Homo sapiens: one gene and its partner. The protein of the gene in region 1 purifies or fractionates together with the protein of each later gene. This does not show direct contact. Each region holds a gene or a part of one and is shown in the gene's direction. Other genes may lie near its edges.

Region 1 (12,385 bases):
TAAAACATGTGTTTGAACAATACGAAATCAGTGCACCTTGAAAAAGAACAGAATAACAGCGATTTTTATGGAACAAGGGAAGACAACCATAAGGTCTGACAGCCTGCGGAGTCGGGCCAAAAGAGCCATATTTTTCTTCTTGCAGAGAGCCTACAAACGGACGTGCAAGTAGGAGAGATATCACTAAATTATTTTCCTAGTAAGGAATATTAATATTAATACCCTGGGAAAGGAATGCATTCCTGGCGGGAGGTCTATAAACGGCCGCTCTGGGAATGTCTGTCTTGTGCCGTTGAGATAAGGACTGAGATACGCCCTGGTCTCCTGCAGAACCCTCAGGCTTACTAGGGTTGGGAAAACTCCACCCTGGTAAATTTGTGGTCAGACTGGTTCTCTGCTCTCCAACCCCGTTTTCTGTTGTTTAAGATGTTTATCAAGAAAATACATGCACCGCTGAACACAACCCTTATCAGTGGTTCTGCTTTTGCCCTTTGCCTTGTGATCTTTGTTGGACCTTTGTCAGTGGTTCTGCTTTTGCCCTTTGTCCTATTCCCTCAGAAGCATGTGATCTTTGTTAGAACCTTATTAGTGGTTCTGCTTTTGCCTTTTGAAGCATACGATCTTTGTACCCACTCCCTGTTCTTACCCCCGCTCCCCTTTTGAAACCCTTAATAAAAACTTGCTGGTCTGAGACTCAGGTGGGCATCACGGTCCTACCAATATGTGATGTCACCCCCAGCGGCCCAGGTGTAAAATTCCTCTCTTTGTACTGTCTCTATTTGTCAGCCGGCCGACTCTTATAGAAAATAGAAGGAACCTACGTTGAAATATTGGGGGCGAGTTCCCCCAATAGTTTAATGGGTAAAGACTTTCATTGTACAATGATGTAAAAATTCTGGGCCAGACGCAGTGGCTCACGCCTATAATCCCAGCACTTTGGGAGGCTGAGGCAGGCCGATCACTTGGGGTCAGGAGTTTGAGACCAGCTTGGCCAACACAGTGAAATCCCATCTCTACTAAAAATAGAAAAATTAGCTGGGTGTGGTGGTGCGTGCCTGTAGTCCCAGCTACTCGGGAGGCTGAGGTAGGAGACTCACTTGAACCCGGGAGGTGGAGGTTGCAGTGAGCTGAGATCGCGCCACTGCACTCCAGCCTGGGGGATAGAGCGAGACTCCAAAAGTTCTGGAAATGGATAATGGTGATAGTTGTACAACAATGTAATGTACTTAATATCATTGATTTGTACACTTAAAAATGGTTAAAATGGGCTTGTTCCAGCAGCTCATGCCTGTAATTCTAGCGCTTTGGGAGGCCAAGGCAGGAGGGTCACTTGAGACCAGAGTTCGAGACCAGTCTGGGCAACATAGCAAGACCCTGTCTCTAAAAATAAAAAAATAAATAAATAAATGGTTAAAATGAGGCCATGCATGCCTGTAATCTCACCGCTTTGGGAAGATGAGGCGGTAGGGTCACTTGTTTGGGAAGAGGAGGTGGGAGGATCCTTTGAACCCAGGAGTTCAAGGCTGCAATGAACTATCATGGTGCCATTGCACTCCAACCTGGGTGACAGAGTAAGACCTAGTCTCTAAAAAAATAAGAGTTAAGGCCAGACACGGTGACTCACGACTGTAGTCTCAGCACTTTGGGAGGCTGAGGCGGGCAGATTACAAGGTCAGGAGTTTGAGACCAGCCTGGCCAACATGGTGAAACCCCGTCGTACTAAATATACAAAAATCAGCTGGCCGTGGTGGCATGTGACTGTAATCCCAGCTACTCAAGAGGCTGAGGCAGGTGAATCGCTGGAACCCGGGAGCCAGAGGTTGCAGTGAGCCGAGATCAGACCACTGCACTCCAGCCTGGGTGACAGAGCAAGACTCTGTCTTGAAAAAAAAAAAAATTAAAAAAAGAAACATGGCCCAGTGTGGTGGCTCTTGCCTATAATCCCAACACTCAGGGAGGCCAAGGTGGGAGGATTGCTTAAGCCCAGGAGTTCGAGACCAGGCAACATAGGGAGACCCCGTCTGTACAAATAATTTTAAAAATTAGCCAGGTGTGGTGGTGCATGCCTGTGGTCCCAGGTGCTCAGGAGGCTGAGGTGGGAGGACTGGCTAAGCCTGGGAGGTTGAGGCTGCAGTGAGCTATGATCACACCACTGCACTCCAGCCTGGGTAACACAGTGAGACACCCCGTCTTAAAAAACAAACAAACAAATAAACAAATACTATGCATAAAACCTCAAGGCTCAAGAAACAACAGTTTGAAATAGTTAGATGTGTGTTTTTTAATTTTCATGTCTTATCTTTTCTGTTTTTTGTTTTTTTTTTTTTTTTTTTAGAGATGAGATCTTGCTCTGTTGCCCAAGCTGGTATCGAACTCCTCCTGGGCTCAAGCAATCTCCTGCCTAGGACTCCCTCCTAACAGCTGGAACTACAAGCATGAACCACTGCACCCAGCTACTGGTGTATTGTTTCAGTAGTCTTTTTAAAAAATGTTAATATCTTGGTAAAAAATATATTTATACTGTTCTCTAACCTGCTTTTTTCATCAGTGTGATGGAAAAATGCTCATCATATATTCTTCTGCTATATAACTTTAGATGTCTACACTGATTTCATTTATGACATCACAATTAAACTGGTTAAACCAAATTCATATTGCTCACTTGTTTCTAATTTTTTCTCTATTAAAATGATATGATAAGCATCCTTGTAGCCAAATATTTACACACATTCATTAAGGTTTACTTAAAAGAAATTCCTAGACGTGGAGCTGAGTCAAAGAGAAGGGATCTTTTAAGTATTTTTGCACTGATTGCCATGAAAAGGTCATACCAGTTTATACATTCATCAATATATGAGTTTCTTTTCTAAATCTTCTTCAACATCATGTGAGAGACAGTTAAAGCATAGTTGTTCAGAGCCCAGGCTTGAGAATCAGATTTCAAAGGTATGAACCCTCTCCCTTTTTCTTTTCCTTTTTTTTTTTTTTTTCTGAGGAGTCTTGCTCAGTCGCCCAGGCTGGAGTGCAGTGGCCCAATCTCGGCTCACTGCAAGTGTGTCCAGAATTGGTGGATTCTTGGTCTCACTGACTTCAAGAATGAAGCCGTGGACCCTCACGGGAGCATTACAGCTCTTAAAGGTGGCATGTCCAGAGTTCGTTCCTTCTGATGTTCGGATGTGTTCGGAGTTTCTTCCTTCTGGTGGGTTCATGGTCTCGCTGGCTTAGGACTGAAGCTGCGGACCTTCGTGGTGAGTGTTACAGCTCTTAAGGCGGCGTGTCTGGAGTTGTTCGTTTTTCCCGGTGAGTTCATGGTCTCGCTGGCTTCAGGAGTGAAGCTACAGACCTTGGTGGTGAGTGTTAGAGCTCATAAAGGCAGTGTGGACGCAAAGAGTGAGCAGCAGTAAGATTTATTGCAAAGAACGAAAGAACAAAGTTTCCACAGTGTGGAAGGGGGACCCCAGCGGGTTGCCACTGCTGGCTAGGGCAGCCTGCTTTTATTCTCTTATCTGGCCCCACTCACATCCTGCTGATTGGTAGAGCCCAGGGGTCTGTTTTGACAGGGCACTGATTGGTGCGTTTACAATTCCTCAGCTAGACACAAAAGTTCTCCACGTCCCCACCAGAATAGTTAGATACAGAGTGTTGACACAAAGGTTCTCCAAGTCCCCACCAGAGTAGCTAGATACAGAGTGTTGATTGGTGCATTCACAAACCCTGAGCTAGACACAGGGTGCTGATTGGTGTGTTTACAAACCTTGAGCTAGATACAGAGTGCCGATTGGTGTATTTACAATCCCCTAGCTAGACATAAAGGTTCTCCAAGTTCCCACTAGACTCAGGAGCCCAGCTGGCTTCACCCAGTGGATCGTGCACTGGGGCTGCAGGTGGAGCTGCCTGCCAGTCCCGCACCGTGAGCCCACACTCCTCAGCCCTTGGGTGGTCAATGGGACTGGGCTCCGTGGAGCAGGGGGCGGCGCTCGTCAGGGAAGCTCAGGCTGCACAGGAGCCCACGGAGGCGGGGGGAGGCTCAGGCATGGAGGGCTGCAGGTCCTAAGCCCTTTCCCGTGGGAAGGCAGCTAAGGCCCAGCGAGAAATTGAGCACAGCGCCAGTGGGCCGGCACTGCTGGGGGACCCAGCACACCCTCCGCAGCCGCTGGCCCAGGTGCTAAGCCCCTCATTGCCCGGGGCTGGCAGGGCCAGCTGGCGGCTCCGAGTGTGGGGCCCACCAAGCCCATGCCCACCTGGAACTCCAGCTGGCCCGCAAGTGCGGAACGCAGCCTCAGTTCCCACTTGCGCCTCTCCCTCCACACCTCCCTGCAAGCTGAGGGAGACGGCTCCGGCCTTGGCCAGCCCAGAAAGGGGCTCCCACAGTGCAGCGGTGGGCTGAAGGGCTTCTCAAGTGCCGCCAAAGTGGGAGCCCAGGCAGAGGAAGTGCTGTGAGGGCTGCCAGCACGCTGTCACCTCTCACAAGCTCCACCTCTGGGGTTCACGCCATTCTCCTGCCTCAGCCTCTGGAGCAGCTGGGACTACAGGTGCCTGCCACCATGCCCAGTTAATTTCTTGTATTTTTTTTTAGTAGAGATGGGGTTTCACTGTGTTAGCCAGGATGGTGTCGATCTCCTGACCTCATGATCCACCCGCCTCAGCCTCCCAAAGTTCTGGGATTACAGGTGTGAGCCACCGCGCCCATCCCCTTTTTCTTTTTAGAGACAGGGTCTTGCTATGTTGTCCAGGTTGGTGCGAAACTCCTGGCCTTAAGCAACCCTGCCACCTCAGCCTCCAAGTAAACTGGGATTACAGGCGTGAGCCATCTTGCCCAACTTCCACTTTCTAGCTGTGTGATCTTCAGAAAATCAGTTAAATTCTCTGGGCCTTAATTTACTGATAGGGTTCTTGTAAGTATTAACCATTAGCTACTATTGAGAGGTGAAGACCGCTGGGCTTCTGGGTTGGGTGGGGACTTGGAGAACTTTTTTGTCTAGCTAAAGGATTGTAAATGCACCAATCAGCACTCTGTGTCTAGCTAAAGGTTTGTAAACGCACCAATCAGCACTGGGTAAAAACGAACCAATCAGCACTTTGTAAAACGAACCAATCAGCACTCTGTAAAATGGAAAATCAGCGCTCTGTAAAATGGACCAATCAGCAGGACATGAGCAGGGCCAAATAAGGGAATAAAAGCTGGTCACCCCAGCTAGTAGTGGTAACCTGCGTGAGTTCCGCTCCAGGCTGATGGAAGCTTTGTTCTTTTGTACTTCACAATAAACCTTGCTACTGCTCCTTCTTTGGGTCCATACTGCATTTCAGAGCTGTAACACCGTGAAGGTATACAGCTTCACTCCTGAAGCCAAGACCATGAACCCACTGAGAGGAACAAGAAAAACAACTCTGGACCTGCTGCCTTTATGAGCTGTAACACTCACCTTGAAGGTCTGTGGCTTTACTCTTGAAGTCGGTGAGAAGCGAGACCATGAACCCACCAGAAGGAACACATTCCGGACGCATCTGAACATCAGAGGAAACAAACTCCAGACACACTACTTTTCAGAACTGTATTAAGAACTGTAACAGTCACTGCGAGGGTCTGCGGCTTCATTCTTGATGTCAGCGAGACCAAGAATCCACCAGAAGGAACCAATTCCAGACACAGAATTATTTGCCTTCTTACTTCCTGAGAGTTCTAGGCACAGAACATACTTGAGGTGTTATACAAAGGTAATTAGAACTGACAGGGAATTGTATGATTAATGACGTGGGACATGAGAGATTTGGAACGAGATAAAAAGGCTTACCTTGAGGACAGCCTTATTAGGAGCAGAGGCAAACACAGGTTTTGTGGGTTTGAAGCCTACACATTTATAGCTTTCTCTAATTACACAGGTAGGAAATTATAAAATCAGGTACAAGGGCTTGGCAGGGGCCTAAAGCTTAAGTGATGAAAAAAAAAAACACCACACCTCTGGTGAAACCAATAGCTTACGAAAAAGTAGAAAAAAGCGCGATGCATGGGGAGCTCCGGTAGTCCTTTGAGGTATTTGAGAGGCTGAGTCAGGAAGATGGCTTGAGCACCAGGAGTTGGAGGTTTGTAAGTGCAGTGATGGTAAACTGCCGCTGTACTCCAGTCTGGCAATGTAGTGAGACCCTGTCTCTCAAAAAAAAAAAGTAACCCTTGCCTGACTGGGACAATAATTGAGAAACCAGTAAAACAAAATAATAACTATTAGCCGGGCGCGGTGGCTCATGCCTGTAAATCCTAGCATTTTGGGAGGCTGAGGCGGGCGGATTACAAAGTCAGGAGTTTGAGAAATTACTACCTATTACCCCATTTGGCTATTTTTACACTTGTAAGGAATGAAGCTCAGAGGTCACACAGCTAGTAAGAAGCCAGCACCCTTCGATGTGGGATTGATGTGGAGGATAGGCATATACAGAGAACACAAAAGCAAAACACCATGGTGCAGATTTTGAAAGAAAAGCCCTAAGATTAGTAATGAGTGTGAATTATTCAACAAAGTGATCAAAACTAACTCCAGCTCTGCATTCCTCTTCGCCATCAGGAGTTTGGAGCCTGGAGACTGCTAGCTGCCTGGTTCTTTAAGAACCAGCCCTGGTCCAGCCCATTCCGCAGGCCAGCAAGCTTCTGAAAAGCAAACCTAGGAAGTAGCTTTCCAACATAAAGTGGAGGTTTCAACACAGGAGACTTTAAGCAAGTTCCAGTGTGTCTATATTTGGTCTGGCTGATCGGCTGGACTCTGGCCTTCCCCGCTCACGTTAGCAGACAGCTCTGCCCTAGTGGGCGCTTAGCCTGCGACGGCAGCCCGAGAGGATGTCTAACAAGCTTCTTTCTCCCCACCCCCATTCAGTTGTTCTCAGGTCTGAATTCAAAATGGCCTCATCTCCTGCTGTCCTTCGAGCGTCCCGGCTGTACCAATGGAGCCTGAAGAGTTCGGCGCAGTTCCTGGGGTCTCCACAGCTGAGGCAGGTTGGTCAGATCATTAGGGTTCCTGCTCGGATGGCGGCGACGCTGATCCTGGAGCCTGCGGGCCGCTGCTGCTGGGACGAACCGGTGCGAATCGCCGTGCGCGGCCTAGCCCCGGAGCAGCCGGTCACGCTGCGCGCGTCCCTGCGCGACGAGAAGGGCGCGCTTTTCCAGGCCCACGCGCGCTACCGCGCCGACACTCTTGGCGAGCTGGACCTGGAGCGCGCGCCCGCGCTGGGCGGCAGCTTCGCGGGGCTTGAGCCCATGGGGCTGCTCTGGGCCTTGGAGCCCGAGAAACCTTTGGTGCGGCTGGTGAAGCGCGACGTGCGAACGCCCTTGGCCGTGGAGCTGGAGGTGCTGGATGGCCACGACCCCGACCCCGGGCGGCTGCTGTGCCAGACGCGGCACGAGCGCTACTTCCTCCCGCCCGGGGTGCGGCGCGAGCCGGTGCGCGTGGGCCGGGTGCGAGGCACGCTCTTCCTGCCGCCAGGTGACTCACCTCCGCTAATTGTTCCGTGTTCGTTCGCCTTTCACTTTGTGTGTCTCCCCCGCCCCACGCTTTTCGCTTATGTGTATGCCCCCCCGCCGCGCCCCCGGGCTATATTGCCCAGGCAGGTTTCGAATTCCTGGTCTCCAGCTATCTTCCCGCCTCTGCCTCCCTAAGAGCTGGGATTACAGGGTGAGCCACCGCGCCCGGCACTTTGAGGGGAGTTACACTTTTTTTTTTTTTCCGTCCCTGCCCTTTTCACACGAAGAAGGGATGTAGCTTCCAACCTTCCGGAGGTTAGTGTAAAGAAACAGGAATGGAATGGAAAGCTGATTGGGGAAGTGTCCCTGCCGCTCCAAAACTGAGAGGTCCCTCAAACCTAGTGCTCAGTTAAAAGACATTGTAAGGGCCAGGCGCAGTGGCTCACGCTTGTAATCCCAGCACTTTGGGAAGTCTCGGCGGGCAGATCACGAGATCAAAAGATTGAGGCCATCCTGACTAACACGGTGAAACCCCGTCTCTACTAAAAATACAAAACAGTAGCTGGGCGTAGTAGCGGGCGCCTGTAGTCCCAGCTACTCGGGAGGCTGAGGCAGGAGAATGGTGTGAACCCGGGAGGCAGAGTTTGTAGTGAGCTGAGATCGCGCCACTGCACTCCAGCCTGGGCGACAGAGCGAGACTCCGTCTCAAAAAAAAGACATTGTAAGGAAAGGAAAAAGACACTTATATTAAAAACAAAACAGGCCGGGCGCGGTGGCTAACGCCTGTAATCCTAGCGCTTTGGGAGGCCGAGGCCGGCGGATCACCTGAGGTCAGGAGTTCGAGACCAGCCTGGCCAACATGGTGAAACCCCATCTCTACTAAAAATAGAAAAATTAGCCAGGCGTGGTGGTGCATGCCTGTAGTCCCAACTACTTAGGAGGTTGAGGCAGGAGAATCGCTGGAACCCGGGAGGCAGAGGTTGCAGTGAGCTGAGATCATGCCATTGCACTCCAGCCTGGGGGACAAGAGTGACTCTATCTTAAAAAAAAAAAAAAAAAATTCAGGTAGTTTCAATTTTTTAATGTTCTTATTTATGTATTGACTAGGAAGCCACTTTTTTTTTTTTTTAAATAAGAATTCCGACTGGTTTTCTCACTGTATTTCCATGGCAGCTAGGAGGTGCCAGGTGGCTGGGCCTGTGACAGTGCAGAGGTTTTGGTGCCTGCCCGCCCACCATTGCTCCAGCTGCAGCTGCTGCCCCCTGCAGGGCCTGTTCGTTCCTGCTGCCTAGCTCCCCGCTGGCTGGCTATGATCTCCCTGTTACCATTCCAGGAGAGCAGCCGCGTCCCTATGCATGGCAGGACCAGGTACTATTGTGGCCTCTCCTCTTGGCCTCGAATGGTATCTTTGTCATCAGTGAGCAAGTCCCCAAAGACCACGGTCTTGTCCATTGTCAGGATAATTCACTCCACAAGCTGGGGCTCCAGGTGCTGCCCTACCCAGCGGTGCTTCTCACCCACACAGTGGTCATACTTTGGCAGGGGCTGGTGCAGTGTGAAGACCTCGGTGTTTTGCATGTGCTTCATCTCTTGCAAGGTCCTCCGGGGTTGGGCTTCAAGACTAGGGAAAAGCCTGGGCTTCACACCCGTGGGCCACTTTATCCACCAGGTCCGGCAGCAGGGTGAGGTACTGCTTCCAGACCAGGAAGCTGCGGTGCTGCTGCAGTGTCACATGCAGCTCCCTGAGAAGGGGCGGCTGAAGCCCCGCAGGAGGCCGTCTGGAAGCTGCCAGCACGCGGTCCCTGTCCATCAGCACACGCGTGGGCTGTGCTCATCGCTGCCGGGGCACTGGGGTTTCTCGGGATCCTAGGGGTATGGGGCCCAGAAATGTTCTTTAAAAGTTTCTCATTTTTGCAACTTTTCTTTGAATTCGCACAGTATGTTAAGATTTATGTAAATTAGCATTTACAATAGGAAAACCTCTTCCTGTCAAATGGAAATTTGAGGTTACTGGATACTTTTATATTACATAAAGAGCAATCAGCCAGTGTAAAAATGAAATGATGCTTATCCTTATTAATAATCAAAGAAATGCAAAATAAAACAACAGAGTACATTTCACACCCTCAGAAGTGGCCCACTTTTAGAAGCTAGCATTATCAATTGCTGACCAGTATGTGGAGGAAATGAAACTCACTGCTAGAAGGAGCAACATATTCATCTGCTCTGGGCAACAATTTGTCTTAACTTACAAAGTTAAATATGTTATTCTACTTGTACATGTGCACCAGGAGGCATATTCCTTATAAGAGGCCAGATGAGCAGTCTGGATTAATTTAAAAAAAGAGCAAAGTCAACTGGAAACAGTCCAAATGTCCATCAACAATAGAACAGATTAATAAATTGAGGTATATTTCCAGCAGTCAAAGTGATTGAACTACAGCTACAAGAATCAACATCTATCAAGATATACAAAAGAAAAGAAAAAAAAAGAATCAACATGGATGAATCTCCAAACCACTGTTGAGTGAAACAGTCAAACCCTAGGAGAACACATTCAGTATCATTCCATTTAGATACAATTCAAAAACTAGGCAAAATAAAATATTAAGGTACATAATCTAAGTGGTAATACTATGAAGAAAACCAAGAGTGATACACAGAAAGTCCAGGATACTGGAAAGAGAGGAAAGGGCACAGGGGTCTGTGGGACGTTGATGGTTTGCGGGTATCAGCACTGAACTATGTCTTAAAAGTGTTGCCTGTAAGGTGTTTGCATTTTTTTTTTTTTTTTTTTTTTTTTTGAGACAGTGTCTCGCTCTTTCGCCCAGGCTGGAGTAGTGGCACAATCTTGGCTCACTGCAACCTCCACCTCCCGGGTTCAAGCGATTCTCCTCCCTCAGCCTCCCGAGTAGCTGGGATTACAGGTGGCCGCCACCACACCCAGCTAATTTTTGTATTTTTAGTACAGATGGGGTTTCACCATGTTGGCCAGGCTGGTCTCGAACTCCTGACCTCAGGTGATCCACCCGTCTCAGCCTCCCAAAGTGCTGGGGTTACAGGCGTGAGCCACCGGACCCAGCCTGCATTATTACTATTTAATTTTGTGTGAAACACAAAACCTTTAATGTAAATGATAAAAATATCAGTAAGTGGAGTCATTCAGAATGAGTAGCCTTTTGAGTCTGTCTCCGTTGAGTAAGTGCATTCTGTTGAGTGCACTGGAGAGGAATTTGTGCTCTTCTATGTAGCAGTCTTTCTTTTTGTTTCTTGGTGGTGCACCATTAAATGGATTCATTCACCAGTTAAAGGACATTTGGGTTGTTTCCAGTCTTTGGCTACAACGAGTAAAGTCACTATAAACACTTGCCAGAGGTTTCTGGACGAACAGGTTTTCATTTCTCGTGGGTAGATACCTAGGAGTGGGATTGCTGGGTCACATGTGTGGTAAGTATATGTTTAACTTAAACCATCCAACTGTTTCAGGAATAGCTTAGTTTTGCATTTTGTTTTGTTTCTTCCCAAGAACCTGGGCCCTTTCCTGGGATTGTGGACATGTTCGGAACTGGAGGTGGCCTGCTGGAGTATCGGGCTAGTCTGCTGGCTGGGAAGGGTTTTGCTGTGATGGCTCTGGCTTATTATAACTATGAAGACCTCCCCAAGACCATGGAGACGCTCCATCTGGAGTACTTTGAAGAAGCCATGAACTACTTGCTCAGTCATCCCGAGGTTAGTTCTTCTTTCAGATTTATGGGCTATGATGTATCAGGTCTCTTCTTAAATGGTCTGGGTTTTCACAGAAGTTAGCTCATTCATGACAGCCATTCCCTACCCCAACACACACTACCTTTTTTAGTCACTTCTTATAGACAGTTTCTTTTTTTGAGATGGAGTCTCACTCTGTTGCCAGGCTGGAGTCCAGTGGTGCGATCTTGGCTCACTGCAACCTCCACCTCCCAAGTTCAAGTGATTCTTGTGCCCCACCCTCCCGAGTAGTTGGGATTACAGGCACCTGCCACCATGCTTGGCTAATTTTTGTATTTTTAGTGGAGGCGGGGTTTCACAATATTGGTCAGGCTGGTCTTGAACTCCTGACCTCAAATGATCCACCTGCTTTGACCTACCCAAGTGCTGGATTACAGGCATGAGCCACTATGCCCAGCCTAATATTTGTATTTTTTTTTTTTTAAGTAGAGATGGGGTTTCGCCATGTTGGCCAGGCTGGTCTCAAACTCCTGACCTCAAGTGATCTGCCCACCTTGGCCTCCCAGAGTGCTGGAATTACAGGCATGAGCCACCACACCTGGCCTCTTATAGACAGTTTCTATTCAATTCTATATTACTATATTTCCTGCTAGTAAAGAGATTCGTAGTTGTTATTATGCAATTTTAAATTCCAGTATTTTTTTTTTTTTTTTTTTGAGATGGAGTCTTGCTGTGTCACCCAGGCTGGAGTGCAATGGCATGATCTCGGCTCACTGCAAACTCCACCTCCCAGGTTCAATTGATTCTTCTGCCTCAGCCTCCCACGTAGCTGTGACTACAGGCACGTGCCACTACTGCCCGGCTAATTCTTGTATTTTTAGTAGAGATGTTTCACCATGTTGGCCAGACTGATCTCAAACTCCTGACCTCAAATGATCCACCCGCCTCAGCCTCCCAAACTGTTGGGATTACAGGCGTCAGCCACCACTCCCGGCCATGAGATGATGTACTTGTTGATGATGACTCAGTTTAGTTATGACAGTGGGAATGGGTGGCTCAGGTGGGAGACAGAAAAAGATCATGGGAGATACGAGATTAAGGAACTGAGAAACCAGAGAATAATTGATAGATCTTCCACATGGTTATCACCAAGAGTGGTGATGGACAAATTGTGGAAAGGAAGAGATAGAGGGGAGGTAAATTCTCAAAGTTGCAAATCTGGGTAAATGGTAG
Region 2 (7,370 bases), on another chromosome or scaffold:
TAGGTTCCTTCTAGACACCAGGAGCTAGAACACACACACAGACCACACCTGCCTGGGGCCTTCGGGGAGCCCCCCCCAACAGGGGAGGCACGAGACAGATTCGTGTGCCAGCCCTGGCTCCTTGCTAGCCACAGGGCCCAGCAAATGCAGACCCTCCCTCCCTGTTTCCTTGTTGGGAACATGAGGGTGGTACCAGCCAATCTCAAAGGGTTAGTGTGAGGACAGAAGAGGTCATGGACGCAGCATCTTTTGGCCATGGTTAGAATCCAAAAGATGGTGGTTTATAATTAATGCAACTTTGCAAATGTCCCTTGGGATTCTTTCCCAATTTAAAAGTTCACCTGTAATCCCAGCACTCTGGGGGTGCCGAGGCCAGTGGATCACTTAAAGCCAGGGTTTGAGGCCAGCCTGGGCCAATTTAAAAGTTCAGTACTTGACAGTTTACTTTTTACAGACTCTTTCTCCTCAAAGGTAAATGGATAAAAATAGCAAGGTGGTAACTCTTAGACATCAAAGAGCTGATTTCCAGCGGTACAGTCGCTCACGCCTGTAATCACAGCACTCTGGGAGGCTGAGGCGGGCAGATCACTTGAGGTCAGGAGTTCCAGACCAGCCTAGGGAATATAGTCAGACCTCATCTCTATTAGAAAAATATATATTTTTTTGCCGGGTGCGGTGGCTCACGCCTGTAATCCCAGCACTTTGGGAGGCCGAGGCCGGCGGAACATGAGGTCAGGAGATCGAGACCATCCTGGCTAACACGGTAAAAGCCCGTCTCTACCAAAAAATACAAAAAATTAGCCAGGCGTGGTGGCGGGCGCCTGTAGTCCCAGCTACTCAGGAGGCTGAGGCAGGAGAATGGCGTGAACCCGGGAGGCAGAGCTTGCAGTGAGCCGAGATTGCGCCACTGCACTCCAGCCTGGGCAACAGTGCAAGACTCCGTCTCAAAAAAAAAAAGAAAAAATATTTTTTTTAAAAAGTAGGATTGATCTCAATTCATTCAACTGCTAAATTTGGAGAGCGACCCTGACCCCAGATTCCTGAAAGGGCTTTACCACACTAGCCACAACGAGGAAATGGAGCCTGTAAAAGAATGAGGTTACTGAGTGTTCACAAATGCACACCAAGGCTCCAAGATGAGATCTCCCGGGGTTCCAGAAAGCTCTGGGCATCGTTCAATCTATCGCCTGTCAGTGCAGGCGTGGTCAAGGCCAAGTTCAACCTGTCATCTATCAGTTCAGGTGTGGTCACGGCCAAGGTTATCTGTGACTGGAAAACAGCCAGCCTGACCCAGATGGCACAGTGCAGGCCAGGCGGGCCGTCCCACCCAACTCACTGTGGGATGCTGGCCAAACCGCCCTCCTCATCTCAGCTTTCCCTCACCTCAGCTTTCCCTCACCTCAGCTTTCCCTCACCTCAGCTTTCCCTCACCTCAGCTCTCCTCACCTCAGCTTTCCTCACCTCAGCTTTCCCTCACCTCAGCTTTCCTCACCTCAGCTTTCTCTTCCAGCCGTGTGTGGCAGCACAAAAACCCAGCTAAGGCAAAATCTGACTCTGAGGAAATCTGACATGGGCTTGAGAGAAGTCCCCTCAAAAGAGTTGAGTGAGCTGTGGAGTGAAAAGCCACAATTTTTCTTTTTTTTTTTTGAGACGGAGTCTCACTCTATCACCCAGGCTAGAGTGCAACGGCACCATCTTGGCTCACTGCAACCTCTGCCTCCCAGGTTTAAGCGATTCTCCTGTCTCAGCCTCCCAAGTAGTTAGAATTACACGTGCACGCCACCAGGCCCAGCTAATTTTTGTATTTTTAGAAGAGACGGGGTTTCACCATGTTGGCCAGGCTGGTCTCAAACTCCTGACCTCAGGTGATCAACCAACCTCGGCCTCCCAAAGTGTTGGGGTTACAGGCGTGAGCCACCACATCCGGCCTCCCAAAGTGCTGGAATTACAGCCGTGAGCCACCGCGCCCGGCCTCCCAGAGTGCTGGGGTTACAGGCCTGAGCCACCACACCCGGCCTGGCCAGCATATTTTTTGTGGCGGGAGGTAGATGTTATCTTTCATCTTCTCTCAGGGCAGAAAATCTCTACACATTTCCTTCATGATGATGACACGGTGGTACTATAGCTTTTCACACTTCTAACTAAAAGAATTTTTTTTGAGACGGAGTCTCGCTCTGTCGCCCAGGCTGGAGTGAAGTGGCGCGATCTCGGCTCACTGCAAGCTCCGCCTCCCGGGTTCACGCCATTCTCCTGCCTCAGCCTCCCGAGTAGCTGGGACTACAGGCACCCGCCACCACGCCTGGCTAATATTTTTGTATTTCTAGTAGAGATGGGGTTTCACTGTGTTAGCCAGGATGGTCTCGATCTCCTGACCTTGCGATCCGCCGGCCTCGGCCTCCCAAAGTGCTGGGATTACAGGCGTGAGCCACCGCGCCCAGCCCTTCAAAAAGTATTTTTAAAAGCCTGCCCATCACACCAGCCCAACGATGTTTCAGCAAACATAGGACTTCATTTTGCCAGATTCTTCCTGTTCTTTGGTATCCCTGAGCACACAGCCGGCTAGCCCCAGATGTAGAAGGTAAGAATTAGGGCGACCCATTGAGCACAGAAACGCTTGTGCTGGCTCCTGCTCAAACCTCTGCTTCCCCACATGGAGAATGGACGCAAAGAGCTGCTGTGACCAGGGCCTGGCACTCAGGGAGCGCTTTCTGTCTGAGTCCTTCTGATTTGCAGTGATGCTGTTTGGGGCAGGGGGTGCAACTGTCACTTTTTCTGGTGCCCTCTGACCCGACATTCCAAGTCCCGAAAGGCCGAACAGGCATCGCACAGTCCCCCCTACCGAGCTGGCGGGAAAGGGCGCCTGACGCTGAGGAGTGCCAGGGGCGGGGGAAAGGGTCCTGGGTCGGTGGTCGGGGGTCCAGGCCCTGGGCAAGGGGTCCTGGGTCGGGAGTCTAGGTCCCGGGTCCATGGTTGGGGGTCAGAGGTCGAGGCCCCGGGGAAGGCATACCGGGTTGAGATTTGGGGATGGAGGCCCCGGGGAAGGGGTCCCGAATCGGGGGTCGGGGATCGAGGCCTGGGGGGAGGGGTCCCGGGTCGAGGGTCGAGGCCCGGGGTAAAGGATCTCGGGTTGGGGGTCGGGGGCCTGGGAAGGGTCCCGGTCGGTGGTCGGGGGTCGAGGCCCGGGAGAAGGGGTCCCGGGTCGGTGGTAGAGGCCCTGGGGAAGGGGTTCCGGGTCGGGGATCGAGGGTCGAGGCCCGGGAAAAGGGGTCCCGGGTTGGTGGTCTAGGCCCTGGGGAAGGGGTTCCGGGTCGGGTATCGGGGGACGAGGCTCGGGAAAAGGGGTCCCAGGTCGGTGGTCGAGGCCCTGGGGATGGGGTCCGGGTCGGGGATCGGGGGACGACGACCGGGAAAAGGGGTCCCAGGTCGGTGGTCGAGGCCCTGGGGATGGGGTCCCGGGGGATCGACGGTCGAGGCCCGAGCTCTCCTGAGTCCTGCCCGCGGCCCCAGGTGGGCGGAGCCCACGCCAGTGGGAGAAGCGGCCCCGCCCCGCGCGCGAGTCCCCGGAGGACGGCCGCGACCTCTTACCGTCCATGGCCACAATGACAGGAGCAGCACTCGGAGAGGGAGAAGGGACGCCAACTCCGGGCGGTGTCAGGTCCCGGCGGCGATCGAACCGACCAAGCTGCACCCGGCGGGGACTTCCGGGGTCGCCGCCCCACTTCCGGTCGCACGGGATGCTCTCGCGAGAGGATGGTGGCCGGTCCCGCCAGAGGGGCGGGGCGCGGCTGCGCGGCGCGCGGTCGCCATGGTGACGCACGCCGCTGGCGCGAGGACCTTTTGTGAGTCGCTCCCGGCTCCGCGGCCGCGGAGGTGTGGGGACCCGGGCTTGCGTCGGAGGGGGCGGTGGGCTCACCCATGGGCCTTTCCAAAAGCAAAGAGAAACCCAGGAAAGGTAAAGGAGGCGCAGGCGCTGGGCTCCCCGCGTCTCCGCCCCTGGGCGCGGGCCCAGGGCGGGGCTGGGCTGGGCGGGGCGGTGTGAGCGCAGGCGCCAGGCTCGGCCCGGTGCGAACCGTTCCTGCCGCCGAGTCCGCCACGGACGGCGCGTTTCCCGCCTGAGGCGGTTACGGAAACGCGGAGACTCGAGACTTGAAGCCAGCTTATTCTGGACCCACGCAGGCGACTGAAGACGATGGGACCCACTGCCCTGCATTCGGTAAGTCCCGGGTCTAACGGATGATCCATATATTTCAGGTGAGGAGCAAAAGAAGGGATCCACCTATTCAGTTCCAAAATCTAAGGAGAAGTTGATGGAGAAGCATTCCCAGGAAGCCAGGCAGGCAGACAGGGAGTCGGAGAAGCCTGTGGACAGCCTCCACCCGGGGGCCGGGACAGCCAAGCACCCGCCGCCGGCAGCTTCGCTGGAAGGTAGGAGACGGCGGGAGGGAGCGAAGCGAGGTCAGTGGCTTGGAGGATCTGGGGCTGGGGTGAGGAGCCTACTGTAAGACCCTACCGGATGGACACTAGTAGCAGGCACGCGCCGTAAAGATGAAACTGGTTTGTTTTGGGAACTTTATGTAGGAGGTAAATATCCAGAAATCTTAGTTGAAAACATAAGTTTAATGAAAATGTAGGTCAGTTCCCGAGTGATAAGTGCGTACCAGGTGGTCGAGGGGCTGGGGCAGTGTGCGTGTGTCTCACCTGAGGTTCTCCTCGAGGGCTGGGTATCTTGGTGCCACTGAGAATCCCTGAGCCTCCGCACACTGGAACAGAGCATTGGGAGGCCGTCCCAGGCTGGACTGTAGCTCTCCGAGGGCTGTGGGGATAAGTACATTGCGGAGGGTGACCGAGGAGTAGAACCTGGGTGCGACAAAGGTGTCTTTTATAACAGCCTAGTGTGGCCAGACCTTTGGGTGTGTGTGGGGAAGATGAGGCCCCAAAAGTAGGAAGAAGCTAGAATACAAAGTTTTCCATCAGTTTTACCACGTGGAGCTGGAAGCGTTAAATATTTTAAACAACGGAGGTGCTGCCTGGGGCGGTAGTTCACACCTGTCCTCCCAGTTATTTGGCCGAGGCAGGAGGATCTTTTGAGCCCAGGAGTTCAAGACCAGCTTGGGCAACATAGTGAGACCCTGTCTCTACAAAAAATAAATATTTAAAAATAAAAAACAAGGGCGGCATGATGAGGTCTGTGCCTACCAACAGGGGAAGCCAGTTCGCAGGGGAGGTGGCCCGGTCAGAGACCCATTGCTGTGGCCCAGTGGGAGCCAGCAAGGCCTTGCAGTAGGAATTGCAGAAGGGTCAGGCAGGGAGAACCCGCAGAGCCTGCCGTCCGAGGAGATTGGGGGCCTGTGCCAGGAGGAGGTGTTTTAAGTTTCATCACAAGAATGAACCACTCGGCTGGGCGCAGTGGCTCACGCCTGTAATCCCAGCACTTTGGGAGGCCGAGGCGTGTGGATCACTTAAGGTCAGGAGTTCAAGACCAGCCTGGCCAACGTGGTGAAACCCTGTCTCTACTAAAAATACAAAAATTAGCTGGGCGTGGTGGCATGTGCCTGTAATCCCAGCTACTCAGGAGGCTGAGGCAGGAGAATTGCTCGAACCTTGAACCGGGACCCGGGAGGCAGAAGTAGTGGTGAGCGAGATCGCACCACTGCACTCCAGCCTGGGCTACAGAGTGAGACTCTGTCTCAGAAAAAAAAAAAAATAATAAGGAGAGAACCACTCGGGTCAGACAAGAAAGAATGTCAGGGGGATGACTGGCCTGCTAGGCAGAGGAGCTGGGCCTGGACTGCTTCACACTGACACGCTTGTAGGATCAAGGGCTGAAAGTAGGAGGCTCTGGGCCTTGGACTTGGAAGAAAGACTTGGATTTGAATTCCCAACTTTGGAACCTCCCACTGGAGGGTGGAACCCCTCACAGGAGGGCGCAACCCCCCACCGGAGGATGGAACCCTGCAGGAATAGCATCACCCTTGGGTGGCAGTTTGGAAAATGCTACCTGTCTGTCACGGTGCTTTTAGCTGAAAGTTACAGAAAAGCTCACTAAACGCAGCTTTAACACAGGGATTTAATGTCTCACGAATGAAGGGTCAGAGGTGGAGCTTCCAGGTTGGCTTGTTAGCACAACAGTGACATCAAAGACTTTGCGTGTCTCTTCTTGACCACTCTCAGTGTCCACAGCCCCCGATGAGTGTACAGCCCCCCACACGCAGGCAGGACTGCATCTACTGCAAAGGCATTGCTCCTTGCTTCATATTAGCAAGGAAACCTTTCCCAGGAAGGCTTCGCCTGCCCAGCCTCTGCAGGACTCATTCAATGGTGCAAATTCACCAGGGGCTGGAGGGAGCTGTGAAGCATGGGAGTGGGCAGGACCTCTGCCAGTAACGGAAGTGGGGGAAGGAGGACCGCCTGTTGGAAGGGCCCCAGCAGTGTCTGTCACACCAGAGGGTGGGGGAGGAAGGTGGACATGAAGGGAAAACAGCAGAGCAAGAGTGAGAACAGAGTTTCAGCAGATAAAATGAAGTGTGCACGCTCTCCATGCAGTGACGGGCTGAGCGACAGTGAGGAGCAGGCTGCTGACTCCCTTGCCACACCGTGAAGGAGTCCCAAAGGTGGGACACTGAGTGAGACAAGCCAGAGGAAAGACCACTCATGTTGCAGTTCCCTTTCCATGGAATGTCCAGAAAAGGCACATTTACAGAGAGAAGCAGATGAGTGGTTGCTGGGCAGAAATGGGAGCCGGCCACAGCTGAGCACAAGAGGACTTTGGAGGGTGATGGAAATGGTTTTCGACCTGAATCTGAACATGGGAAGCACTGCAGTTTAGTAGTCCTGGTCCCTAAGCCCTTCCAGCCCAGGAGCCAGACCTGTGAGCAAACAAGCCTTTAGTGATTCCAGGCTCTGGCTGGAACCTTGAGTCTTCTCAGCTTGGGGCATGCACCTCAGGGGGAGCCAGCATCAGTGTCCAGCCCCAAGAGCTTCCCTGTACGTCTCAGTGAGTCTTCACATGCCTCCAACTGCCTGGACAACCACACGTGATACCTGTCCTGCCAAACGTGTCCTGAACCCATAAAATCCAGAGAAAAGAAAATCGTTTTAAACTGCTGAGGTTTGGGGTAAGTTACTATGAAGCAGTAGTGAGAAGAACAGAAGGGCCATGATGGGGAGAAAGTTTGGCCATAAGTTAATCACTGTGGCAGCTGTTAGGATATTGATGTGGCTTGGCTGTGTCCTCACCCAAATCTCATTTTGAATTCCCACATGTGGGAGGAACTGGGTGGGAGGTGATTGAATTATGGGGGCAGGTCTTTCCTGTGCTGTTTTCGTGATAGTGAATGAGTGTCACGAGATCCGATGGTTTTAAAAACGGG

What was found.
Region 2: the proteins of ACOT2 (region 1) and SPATA33 purify together in Homo sapiens (affinity purification with mass spectrometry; 2 studies listed by BioGRID and IntAct, with this or other methods). This does not show direct contact.

What each region holds. Positions count from the first base shown.
Region 1 is NC_000014.9:73,562,415-73,574,799, forward strand, and holds the start of ACOT2 (acyl-coenzyme A thioesterase 2, mitochondrial), read left to right. Parts: upstream 1-6,798; 5' UTR 6,799-6,826; coding exon 6,827-7,469; intron 7,470-10,973; coding exon 10,974-11,176; intron 11,177-11,871; coding exon of another isoform or gene 11,872-11,955; exon of another isoform or gene 11,956-11,993; intron 11,994-12,385. UniProt on the Homo sapiens protein: Catalyzes the hydrolysis of acyl-CoAs into free fatty acids and coenzyme A (CoASH), regulating their respective intracellular levels. Displays higher activity toward long chain acyl CoAs (C14-C20).
Region 2 is NC_000016.10:89,653,997-89,661,366, forward strand, and holds the start of SPATA33 (spermatogenesis-associated protein 33), read left to right. Parts: upstream 1-3,839; 5' UTR 3,840-3,915; coding exon 3,916-3,952; intron 3,953-4,071; exon of another isoform or gene 4,072-4,251; coding exon 4,252-4,425; coding exon of another isoform or gene 4,426-4,455; intron 4,456-6,543; coding exon of another isoform or gene 6,544-6,554; exon of another isoform or gene 6,555-7,370. Other genes in the region: CHMP1A (charged multivesicular body protein 1a), read right to left, coding at 3,586-3,592. UniProt on the Homo sapiens protein: Plays an important role in sperm motility and male fertility. Required for sperm midpiece flexibility and for the localization of sperm calcineurin to the mitochondria. Promotes mitophagy as well as acts as an autophagy mediator in male germline cells.